Regions from separate parts of the Homo sapiens genome. Here region 1 is linked to region 2. Evidence: fine-mapped expression QTL. A gene starts in region 2. The other region holds a variant in brackets. All regions are shown on one strand. Distances are from middle to middle. Region 1 holds the start of FAM99A (family with sequence similarity 99 member A). Region 2 holds the start of H19 (H19 imprinted maternally expressed transcript).

What was found. PIP is the estimated chance that this variant, and not a neighbour inherited with it, causes the effect.
Region 1: its variant is fine-mapped to the expression of H19 in lung (TOPMed, PIP 0.97).

The regions. Positions count from the first base shown.
Region 1 is chr11:1,665,139-1,670,501 of GRCh38, forward strand. It overlaps FAM99A (family with sequence similarity 99 member A), which reads left to right and starts at 461. Exons shown (of 3, transcript NR_026643.1): 1 at 461-626; 2 at 1,297-1,405; 3 at 1,564-2,718. The variant G/A (reference allele first, on the strand shown) is at 2,957.
Region 2 is chr11:1,995,287-2,000,649 of GRCh38, forward strand. H19 (H19 imprinted maternally expressed transcript) reads right to left here and starts at 2,556. Exons shown (of 5, transcript NR_002196.3): 1 at 1,232-2,556; 2 at 1,001-1,135; 3 at 793-905; 4 at 590-712; 5 at 1-508. It overlaps MIR675 (microRNA 675), which reads right to left and starts at 1,545; the gene lies at 1,473-1,545. It also overlaps a transcript of MRPL23 not described here. RefSeq lists enhancers at 2,068-2,915, 2,916-3,764, 3,765-4,611.

The sequences.
Region 1 (5,363 bases), 330 kb before region 2:
GGAGAAGACACCAGGGCTGGAATTAGAGGGACATCAAGGCTGATACTTAGAGGCATCCAATATATGGGGCCTGCCTGATGGGCTGCTCTCAGGTGGGATTTGGGGGGTGTGAGAGGGGTCAGTGCCCAAATGACCATGGGGTCCGTGGCCTGTATGCCCAGTCAGGTGACGACGCCATTCAGAAAGTAGATCTCATGGGGTGCCCGGCTGCTGAGTCTCAGGCCAGATCTGCAGTGAGTGTGCTGCCCCAGGCGTGGAACACTCTGGTGCCATCGGGACCCAAGGCTGAGTGCACCCAAGAGCTGTGGGTCTGAAACAGCGGTCAGAGGTCACTGACATGTGGAGGAGGCCCCTGGAGTGTGGGAGACAGAATCCCCAGGTGTCAGGCTTGGCAGGAGGCTTTGCAGGTGGGGAGGAAGGGCAGGTAGCGTGGCTGCCGGAGGAGGGAGGGCACTGGTAGGAGGAGGGTGGCCTGTCCCGGGCAGACCAGCCTCTTTGGGCTGTGTGGCCCCAGCTCCCTGAGCCCAGAGGGAGGTGAGGGTGAGAAGGCCTGGACCAGGCAGGACGCAGCCCCCAGGGCCCCTGCTGGGAAGAGGTCAGAACCTCCCAAGGACCCAGAAGGCCAGGTAACTGAGAACGGGGCTGCTCTCTGAATCTCCAGGGAGGACAAAGGCGGCCATGGCAGCAAGGGGACAGGGCAGAGGGAAAGGCCGGCAGGTGGATGTTGGAAGCCGCAGATTCCCATCCAGTATCCTAGAGGAGGAGACCCAGGGCTGTGTCCTAGGAGGCCCAGGAAGCCTGGTCAGCCTGGAGGCTGAGGGCGGGCCCGGGAGATCTGGTAAGGACATCAGTGTCTCCACGAAGAGCAGCAGGGTCTCAGCCCATGGCAGCCGCAGGCCCCATGACTGGGGCCGCAGCCTCCAGAGCCGCCACAGCAGCCCGTTGTTCTGGGGGGTCAAAGGTGGAGGCTGTCAGAGGGGCAGTGCAGGGGGCTGCTGGGGTGAAGCCCCCTGTAGCAGCAGCACCCAGCCTGCTGTGGCTCTGCCCTCCTGGACCCCCTGCCCTCCTGGACCCCCTGTCCTCCTGGACCCTCTGCCCTCCTAGACCCCCTGCCCTCCAGGACCCCCTGCCCTCCTGGACCCCCTGTCTGTGGCCCCTGCTCCTCTCCTCCTTCCCCGACACATGACTGGACCCCCCGATCTGCAGCCGGGGTCTGGGCACTGGGGGTCCTGTGGACCTCTCGGTGTCTGGGGACAATCACAGGTTCCCGTGCCCACACCCAGCCTCTGCTTCCAGAACACACTAGAGGGTCCCGGCATCCTGATGAGTCCACTGTCCCCGCGATGGTTTTCAGGGATGGAGAAGGCTCCCTGTCCTCCGCTGGAACCCTGCAGCCGGGCTGACGGTACCCCCACCACCCACCCAGGGGCCCCAGACCCTCCCCATCTCCACCGCCAACCCAGGCCCCGGCTGCGCACGCGGGGCCAGGCCGTGAGCTGCTGTCCCCGGATGGGGCCGCCCCGGGCTGGCCTGGCTCACTCCGTGTCACAGATATTCCCACAGAGACCCCAGCGAGACCTGCAGAACATTACAGCAGAATGAAGGAGAGCCAGAGGAAGAGGCAGATGTGCTGGCCTGTAAACAGTCTGATTTCCAATGTAAACCAGATTCAGGCCCACGACATCAGGTAAACATCTGCATCAGAGCCCCCGGCCCCCCACCGCCCGGGAGGCCCCGGGGTCCACACGGCCGACTCTGGGACCCGTCACAGTGACCGCCGAGACATTTCGTAATTAGGCAAAATTGATCCTTGCATTCCTTCCCTAAATCCCAAATCTCTGCAATTTTACTTCTTCTCAAAAATGAAAACATTTGGCAATTAGCTGATCCAAGTGAAAAAGGTAGAGAATGTGCTCTCAACTGGAAAATGCCAATTAAGGAAGCAGCTCTGACTTCCCACCCGCCCTGGCTAAGCTGGGAGCTTATCTTCCCCGAGAAGAATCTGCTGGGATAAGGGGGCTTGGGAAACACCGAGGGCAGGGCTGCCTCCTCAGCTTCCTCTGAGAGCAGATTAGCCGTGGCCTTGTGCCAGCAGGGCCTGGGTGCCACACAGGGTGGCAGGGGTGGCAGAGCCGGGCCCGGCTCTGGTACTGGGATTTGGGGTGGCGGGACCCAGTGGGGCACCCGCTTGTGGGCGGCACTGAGGGCGGTGACGTAGGCAGCGGGTGCCGGTGTCTGCCCCTCCATCTGGCCGGGCTCCCCACCCTGCTCCTGCAGCCCTGGACCTCAGGGCCCATTTGCGGTGCAAGGCGGCTCTTGGCCATTTTGCCCGCAGGGCCCTACCTTGGGTCTTGGGAGCTTCTGTCCCTTGCCCTCTCTTGTCCAGGTCAGCATCTCCCACTGTGGGAATCCTATGTGGCCCCATCGTCTGGACAGTGTGGGTCAGGTCACTGTGGCTGTTTTGTGATGCGTGTGTGGGCTCATCCCTCAGTGCTCAGAAGCTGCAGACACTATGGAACCGCTTTTCAGGCCCCGTGGCCGTCACCCCCGCTCTAGAGACTTGATTGCAGGGACCATGCCCGGCCGGCCTAACTGCACCCCTCACTCCAGGTGGGTGGGGGGACCCAGGCCTGCTGGCCCCTGTGGTGGTGCAGCCCAGAAGGTGTGAATCAGTTTACACTGTTCAGTGCCTGAATAAAAGTCACAGGACAAAGAGGACTTGGTTGCACAAACTACTGACATGAAATTCACATTTTGTCCTGAAGGAAACGCAAGATGAATTGAACTCATGTTCAGTTTTTATTTCTCATTTCTCCCGCCTCAGTCTCTTCTCACGTGCACGACCTCACAGCGCTGTCACAAGGCCTGCTGGGCACACGCAGCTCATAGAGAAGTGATGGCTTCCTCCTTGCCCCCTCACCTCCCTCCTTCCCCTCTCCCCCTCACTTCGGAGCAC[G/A]CAGGCTGATTGTGGAGACATCTCCCAGCCAGGATGTGTCAACAGGGAATGTGCTGGGGACAGCGGGAGTTCACAGCCACCCCCGCAGGCGCCTTCCTGGAGCACGTCCACAGGCCATGTGCAGCTGCATCCCCCACGACGGCAGGGACAAGTTCCTTCCATAGGGCCCGGGTGGCCCCCAGAGCTGCACCATTTATGATCCGGTCCTTTGCAGAACGCAAGGGACAGACACATGAACCCTGACCTAGGTTCTTGTGCAGAAATGTTCTCTCATCGGAATAGAAAGGTATGAGTCTCAGGACTGGTTCTCTGCAAAGCAGCCATCGGCCTTTCAAGCAGAAACCATGGAGCCCCCAGAGGCTGAGTCTTCCAAGGCGCTGGGAGACTTGGCGTTTGCCTCTTTTTTAAATGCAATGACCGTTGCAGTGCATGGAATCAGAGACATGTATCTATGCGTAGAAATGAGTCTGTAAACACGATCAAGGTGTGATTTCTGTATGACAATGCAGTTGGATCAGAAATTGGAGAGTGCTGGCCGGGCGCGGCGGCTCACGCCTGTAATCCCAGCACTTTGGGAGGCCGAGGCGGATGGATCACTTGAGGTCAGGAGTTCGAGACCAGCCTGGGCAACATGGTGAAACCCCATCTCTACTGAAAACACAGAAATTAGCCGGGTGTGGTGGCGTGTGCCTGTAGTCCCAGCTACTCGGGAGGCTGACGTGGGAGGATCACTTGAGCCCAGGAGGCAGAGGCTGCAGTGAGTAGAGATAGCACCACTGAACTCCAGCCTGGGCAACAGACTGAGACTCCATCTCAAAAAAATAAATAAATAAATAAATAAATAAGAAAGAAAAGAAGAAATAGTGGAGTGCTGTGGTCACTCTGGAAAAAGAGGAGGGACCCCACCCAAATGTGGTTCCTCCGTCAACCCTGAAGACGCCCCCACACACCGGGACGAGATGAAAGGGTCTGGTACTTACCTAGCTGGGCTTTCACGGGGTGCACGGTGGCTTCAGGAAGGGAGCTGGCGTGGGGCTCTTCTTATGCCTCGGGGGTGGGGTGATGGCCTCACATGGGCAGGAGCCTGCAGGGCTTGAGCCTCTCACTGGCACCAAAGACACCTGCCCTGCTGTGGGGCACACGGGAAGAGGGATGGGTGAGGTGTCAAAGCAGTGAGCCGTCAAACATCATAAAAACGGAGTCAGGCTCTTTATTGCAGGAAACAATTTGCGGCTTTCTGTGCAGAGAGCAGGGGGGATTTGAGGTGGGCTTTGTAGAGTGAGGGAGTTCACCAGATTGACAGTGTGGGCTGGGTCACCCTGTGCAAAGCAGCGATTTCCATGTTGCCCCTGAGAGAATGTTTTCCTGTGATCTCCAGCATCGAGATTTAAAAATTATCATGTTCATAGTCTGATGATAAAACATTAATTTTTAGGAAGGCAGAGGACCTGCCTGCTTTTCCTGATAAGACCTCGTTCCATTGCCCTAGGTCAGGCATGGATTATTAACTCTCAGGGTTTTGGGGGACCAGCAGCCACAGATGTGGAGTCCTGGGGAAAGGGTGACAGCCTCCTCTGCCTCCGGGGATTTGTCCTTCAGTGACTTGACGCCCGCAAGAGTGGATGCTAATTCTCACCGTCCCCATGAAATCCCTGCTGACGCATGCTGCCCAGGAGACATCTCCACAATCAGCCTGCCTGCTGGAGAGAGGAAGGAGGGAAGCGAGGGTGCAAGGAGGAAGCCAGCCCTTCTCTGTGAGCTGCATGTGCCCAGCATGCCTCATGACAGCCCTGTGAGGTGAGAGGAGACTAAGGCGGGAGAAATGAGAAGCTTGCCCGAGTCACGCAACCGAAGCACAGAGCCAGGGTCTGGCGCCCTGAGAGGTCCTGGGTGCATTGGATGCTGTGCACGTACTTCAGCAAAGAGGCAGGATGTTGTCATCTTCCTTCGGAGCCAGTAACATTTTCTGCTGCCAGCAAGGAAAGAACATTGGATCACGCGCCTCCATGCAGGCAGGGTCCTTCAGTGGCGCTGATCCTGAGCCCAGCCCTCTCGTGGTCTGTGCTGACGCCAGGGCCTCTCGTTGGAAGGCCTCGTGCTCCACAGTTCCCCCACAAAGGGGAGGATGCTGAACTCTTTACCTGTAATTCTGGCCTCGAAGCAGCTGTTTTCTGCCTGGCTTCTCACCCCAGCCATGCACAGTGGAGGTGTCAGCAAATCCCTGGAGAGAAAGCCCGGTGGACACAGGGTTCCTTTCTCTGAGGCTCCCTTTCCCTGGGATCACAGTAGCTGAGTCGGGGTCTCCAGAGAAACAGAACTGGGGGTAGGGGGGTGCATAAAGTGAGAAGGAGATTTATTATAAGGCGGGGACTCATGGGGTAATGGAGGCTGCAAGTCCAGCATCTGC
Region 2 (5,363 bases):
ATGTCGGTCGGAGCTTCCAGACTAGGCGAGGGCAGGGTGAGGCCTCGGGCACACAGCCGGCGCCCAGTCACCCGGCCCAGATGGAGGGCGGCCGGGCCCTGCACAGGCACTTGCCAAGGTGGCTCACACTCACGCACACTCGTACTGAGACTCAAGGCCGTCTCCACAACTCCAACCAGTGCAAATGACTTAGTGCAAATTAAATTCAGAAGGGACGGGGGAAACAGAGTCGTGGAGGCTTTGAATCTCTCAGAAAAAAGGAAAGACAGGAAAGCTCAGAAACAAAGAGACAGAAGGATGAAAAAGAAGAAGAGGGAGGTGGTGGGGACGGCGTCATCCCGCTGGAGGAGCTCAGCTCTGGGATGATGTGGTGGCTGGTGGTCAACCGTCCGCCGCAGGGGGTGGCCATGAAGATGGAGTCGCCGGTGCGGGGTGGGTGCTGCGGGCGCTGCTGTTCCGATGGTGTCTTTGATGTTGGGCTGATGAGGTCTGGTTCCTCTAGCTTCACCTAGAGATAGCGACACGTGGGTGGGATGGGGGCAGGGTGCTCGGGGGCCTGGAGGCTTCCGGAAGGAGCGCTGGTGCTCACCTTCCAGAGCCGATTCCTGAGTCAGGTAGTGCAGTGGTTGTAAAGTGCAGCATATTCATTTCCAAGCTAGAGGGTTTTGTGTCCGGATTCAAAGGCCCAGGCTTGAGCTGGGTAGCACCATTTCTGTGGATGGGGAAGGAGTGAGGTCCCACTCAGCTCCTCTCGCGTGCCCCCCACCCCAAGTGTGGCAGGAAGCCCCTCACCTTTCATGTTGTGGGTTCTGGGAGCCCAGAGGGCAGCCATAGTGTGCCGACTCCGTGGAGGAAGTAAAGAAACAGACCCGCTTCTTGCCGCAGCCCCACCAGCCTAAGGTGTTCTGTAGAAGACAGAGGTCGGGGCAGTGAGATGGTGGCCCGGCGGGGCGGTCTGGGCAGGGCCGCGTCCTGACGCAGGGAGGGCAGACACGCTCACCAGGAAGGCCGGACGCGCCTCCTCTGTCCTCGCCGTCACACCGGACCATGTCATGTCCTGCTTGTCACGTCCACCGGACCTGGCGTCTTGGCCTTCGGCAGCTGGTGGGCACGTCCACCCCAGCTGGAGACCTGGCTGTGGGGAGAACGAGAGAGTCGTGTGGGGAGAACGTGTTGGTTGTGTGGGGAGGGGCGGGTGGGGGCTGAGGGTGGCAGAGGGGGAAAAACTCACCCTCGTCTCCAGCCCGAACGCTGAGGCACCGATCCCGGCTCCGTCGCCGCCCGCGAGGCCCGCCTTGGCCACGGGCTCTGGAGGCCAGTGCCTCCCGCTCGCCGCCCGCTGCGCTCCTCACCCCTGCCTGCACCATCCTCCCTCCTGAGAGCTCATTCACTCCGCCCCGCCCGCCTCGCCTAGTCTGGTCTCGCCCCATGCCCTTGACTCCCCTGGATGCTGTACTGTCTGCCAAGCCAGCCCCAGGGGCTGAGCGGTGAGGGCATACAGCGTCACCAAGTCCACTGTGGGCCCTCTCCGCACCAGACCCTGGGCCGCAGTGCCTCGTGGGACCGGCGCCCGCAGGCCGAGCCCCTGCAGCCTCCTTGCTGCGCAATGTCCCGGGGCCCCCCTCCCGTGGCCGCTTCGCCCTCCTGGTGACGTCCTGCTGCAACTCCCCGAGCACTGCCTGTCTTCCCGCTCTCCAGCCCTCGAGGCTCCGGCATAGGCCTGAGAAAGCCGTGCCGGAGCTGCCCCTGTGCCTGCTACTAAATGAATTGCGGTGGGTGAGGTGGCAGCTGGGGACCCCTCTGTCCTGTGTCCCCTGCCATGTCCCTGTCTGACCCAGGCCTGGGGTACCACCCCACGTGCTGGACCCTACGCTGGCCACCCCTGTGCTCCCTCCCTGCCCTCTTGCTCTTTCTGCCTGGAACGGGCCCATAACCCCCCAGCCTTGCGCAGTCTCGGCTCCCCCCGAGAAGATGTCACCTTTGCTAACTCTCCTGCCCCCATCCTGCCCCTCTGCTGGGAGGGTGTCTGCTTCTCCCCGCCAGCCCTCGATCCCCTAAACCTCCTTCTTTCAGAAGGCTGGGGAAGCGAGGCCTGGGGAGGGAAGGGACTCACCTGCCCGGCAGATGGGGTCCTCACCTGCCCGCTGCTGCCAGCTACACCTCCGTTGCCCAGGCCCTGGGATCAAACCCTGCCCACCAGCTCCCCTCGTCCAACCAGCTGCCACGTCCTGTAACCAAAAGTGACCGGGATGAATGCCTGGCTCCCCCTTCTTTCCAGCCCTAGCTCAGGCCCATCGTCCCCAGCTGATGTCGCCCTGTCTGCACGATGCCTGGGCGCCTACTCCACACTCCTCACTGGCCTCAGGCCCCACCAGCCCTGCCTCGAGCTAGCCCCTCCACCCGTCATCACTCCTGCCAGACTCCAGATGTCCAAGGTGCTCCTTGGCTCCCACAAGCTCTCCTCCAGCACCCCATCTTCCCCTGGTTGCCCCTCGGTTCCCCACTTCCCCAGTTTCCCCCGTTACCCCCCACCCATCCCACCCCCTCCCTCACCCTGCTCCTCGGTCCTAGCCCGGGCTTTTTCTAACTGGGGTGGCCCCGCCCAGAATTCCCGCCCCTGCCCTGCCGGCCAATCAGAGCAGGGCCCTCCCGAGGGCCCCCGCAGGGCCCACCTCCGCCCTGGACAGTTCCAGCACACGTCTCTCTCACCCAGCACCCATCCTGGAATTCTCCAAAGACGGCCTCCCCGCACCCCTCCTTTGGCATCCGGAGACAGGGCTGAGCATTGCCCCATCACCTCCCTCAGGGTCCAGGACTTCTCCCTCCCAGACCACTGTCTCCCCTCAGGGGACACCATGCCTGCTGCTCCCTGCCTGCCAGCGCCCTGCACATACTTTGCACATGGCTGGGGGCCAGCTGCGGGTCCCTGGGGACTCGGATGGCACAGAGGGCCCCTTCCTGCCACCATCACGGCTCAGACCTCACGTTCCTGGAGAGTAGGGGTGGGGTGCTGAGGGGCAGAGGGAAGTGCCGCAAACCCCCTGGTGGGCGCGGTGCCAGCCCCCCAGGCCGATTCCCATCCAGTTGACCGAGCTTGTGCTGGTCACCGCGGTTTCCGCAGGACAGAGTCCCCACAGCCGCTGGGCACCCCGGTCCCATTCGCGGCCACTTTCCTGTCTGAAGACCGCATGTTGCCGGGCTGTGCTTACGGCTCGCGGGCGCACTCTACTGACAAGCGGTGGGCGGCCTCACAGACTCTCCCAGGCCCGCGTGGGGCACCACGGTTGGGAGTGGAGTGGAGACTGGCGAGTTTCGACTCCCCCAGCCACCCCGCTGTGGGTCCGTCGGTCACCACCTTGGCCTTTGGTGAGGGTTGTTGGGGCCCTGCAGTCCCTGGGGTTCACCTCAAGTCTCGAGTGTCAAAGCCGTGAAGGGGAGCACCAGGGCCAAGGGACCCAGAGTTCACGGGTCCAATCACCCAGCAGGCCCTCTGGGATGTGGAAGGGCTGGCCGCGCCTTCGGCAAACCCTCTGTTCCCATGGCCCCACCGGAAAGGGCTGAGTGCTTGCCTGCTGAGCACTGACCGCCGGGCTTTGTCGTGCGTGAACCCCACGACATGGGGGAATTTCCATGGCATGAAAATTCTCAGGCTTTTCCATGAGTGGACCCCCAAGTTAGGAGACCAAGGCAGACCCCCACATTTTGCTAAAAGTGGAGTCCAGCCTTGGGTCACCTTCAGACTGTGATGTGAGTCACCACTGCCGCCTCTCGGCCATTTCCGTCTCCACAGCCACAACCGATTCTGTGCCATCGCTGGGAGATGGGCTCACTGGGGACAGCACCCAAGACCCAAGGGGAGACTCAGGAAATACTCCGGAAATACAAATGCTCCAGGCAAGGCGGCTCCCCAGGCCCCTCGCTCCTGCTCCAGGCATTGTGGGAGGGGCTAGCACAGGATCCGGTCGTGCTGCCAGCAATGCGCAGGCACGGGGAACACCTGTGGGCAAATTCACCTCTCCACGTGCCAACTACCGCCGGCCGGACGTGATGATCCCTGAGCGTGGAGCACACCCGAGCCATCGAACATCCTAACCCCATCAGGATCCCCACCCCGTACCGAGTCCACAAGCCGCAGGGTGTCTGCTGCACCCACGATAATGGATTATCTCCAGCAACACAAGGATCCTGGACCAGAGAATAAAGCAGCAGTGGCGCTCCCAGCTCTTTAGCATCTTAAGCTCCTGAATTAGCACCTCAAACCTGCATTGAATGAGAATGTTAATGTCTGGCCACTTAGGGCTGAGGAGATCAGAGTGTTCACTGGGGAGGCAATTGTCAGTTCAGTAAAAGGCTGGGGATTTGGGGGCTGTCCTTAGACGGAGTCGGAGCTGTGCTCTGGGATAGATGTGGAAAATGTAAGATTTTGGTGGAACACACTGTGATCATCACATAAGTAGGCGTGACTTGAGTCCCAGGCCATGACACTGAAGCCCTCGGAGTGTGACCCGGGGCCACGGGGCTGTGGATAATGCCCGACCTGAAGATCTGGTGCGGCTCCCATGAGTGTCCTATTCCCAGATGACCCCCGTGAACCCTGCGACGCGTGGCTTGGGTGACCCGGGACGTTTCCACGGGCGAACCCCAGTTGGGGCGGGCTCGGGCTGTGATGTGTGAGCCTGCACTGCCGCCGCGCGGCCACTTCCGATTCCACAACTACAACCAATTCCGTGCCATCCAGGCGGTGAGACCGAAGGAGAAGCCTCCAGAAATACCCATGTGCTATGCAAGAGCCCCCGGGCTCTGTGCCTGCCAGAGACCCTGCGAGAAGGGTTTCACACTAGGGCCGAGATCCCCATCATCCATGGAACTGGGACACCTCATTGTTCCCCTAGTATCTCCTCCCATCTCCCCAACCTTCAACAGTGCACCCTGGGGTGAATCAGACACGTAGCCCGATATGGCTCCCATGAGTGTCCTATACCTCACGACCCCTGTGAACCCTGTGGCGCCCGGCTTGGATGACCTGGGATGTTTCCACGGGCGAACCCCAGCTGGGGCGGGCTCAGGCTGTGATGTGTGAGCCTGCACTGCCGCCGCGCAGCCACCTCCGATTCCACAACTACAACCAATTCTGTGCCATCCGGGCGGTGAGACTGAAGGGGAAGCCTCCAGAAATACACATGTGCTATGCAAGAGCCCCCGGGCTCTGTGCCTGCCAGAGACCCTGCAAGAAGGATCTCACCCTGAGGCCAAGATCCCCATCATCCAAAGAATGGGGACACTTCATTGTCCCCCAAGTATCTCCTCTCATCTCCCCAACCCTCAATAGTGCACCCTGGGGTGAATCAGACACATAGCCCGAT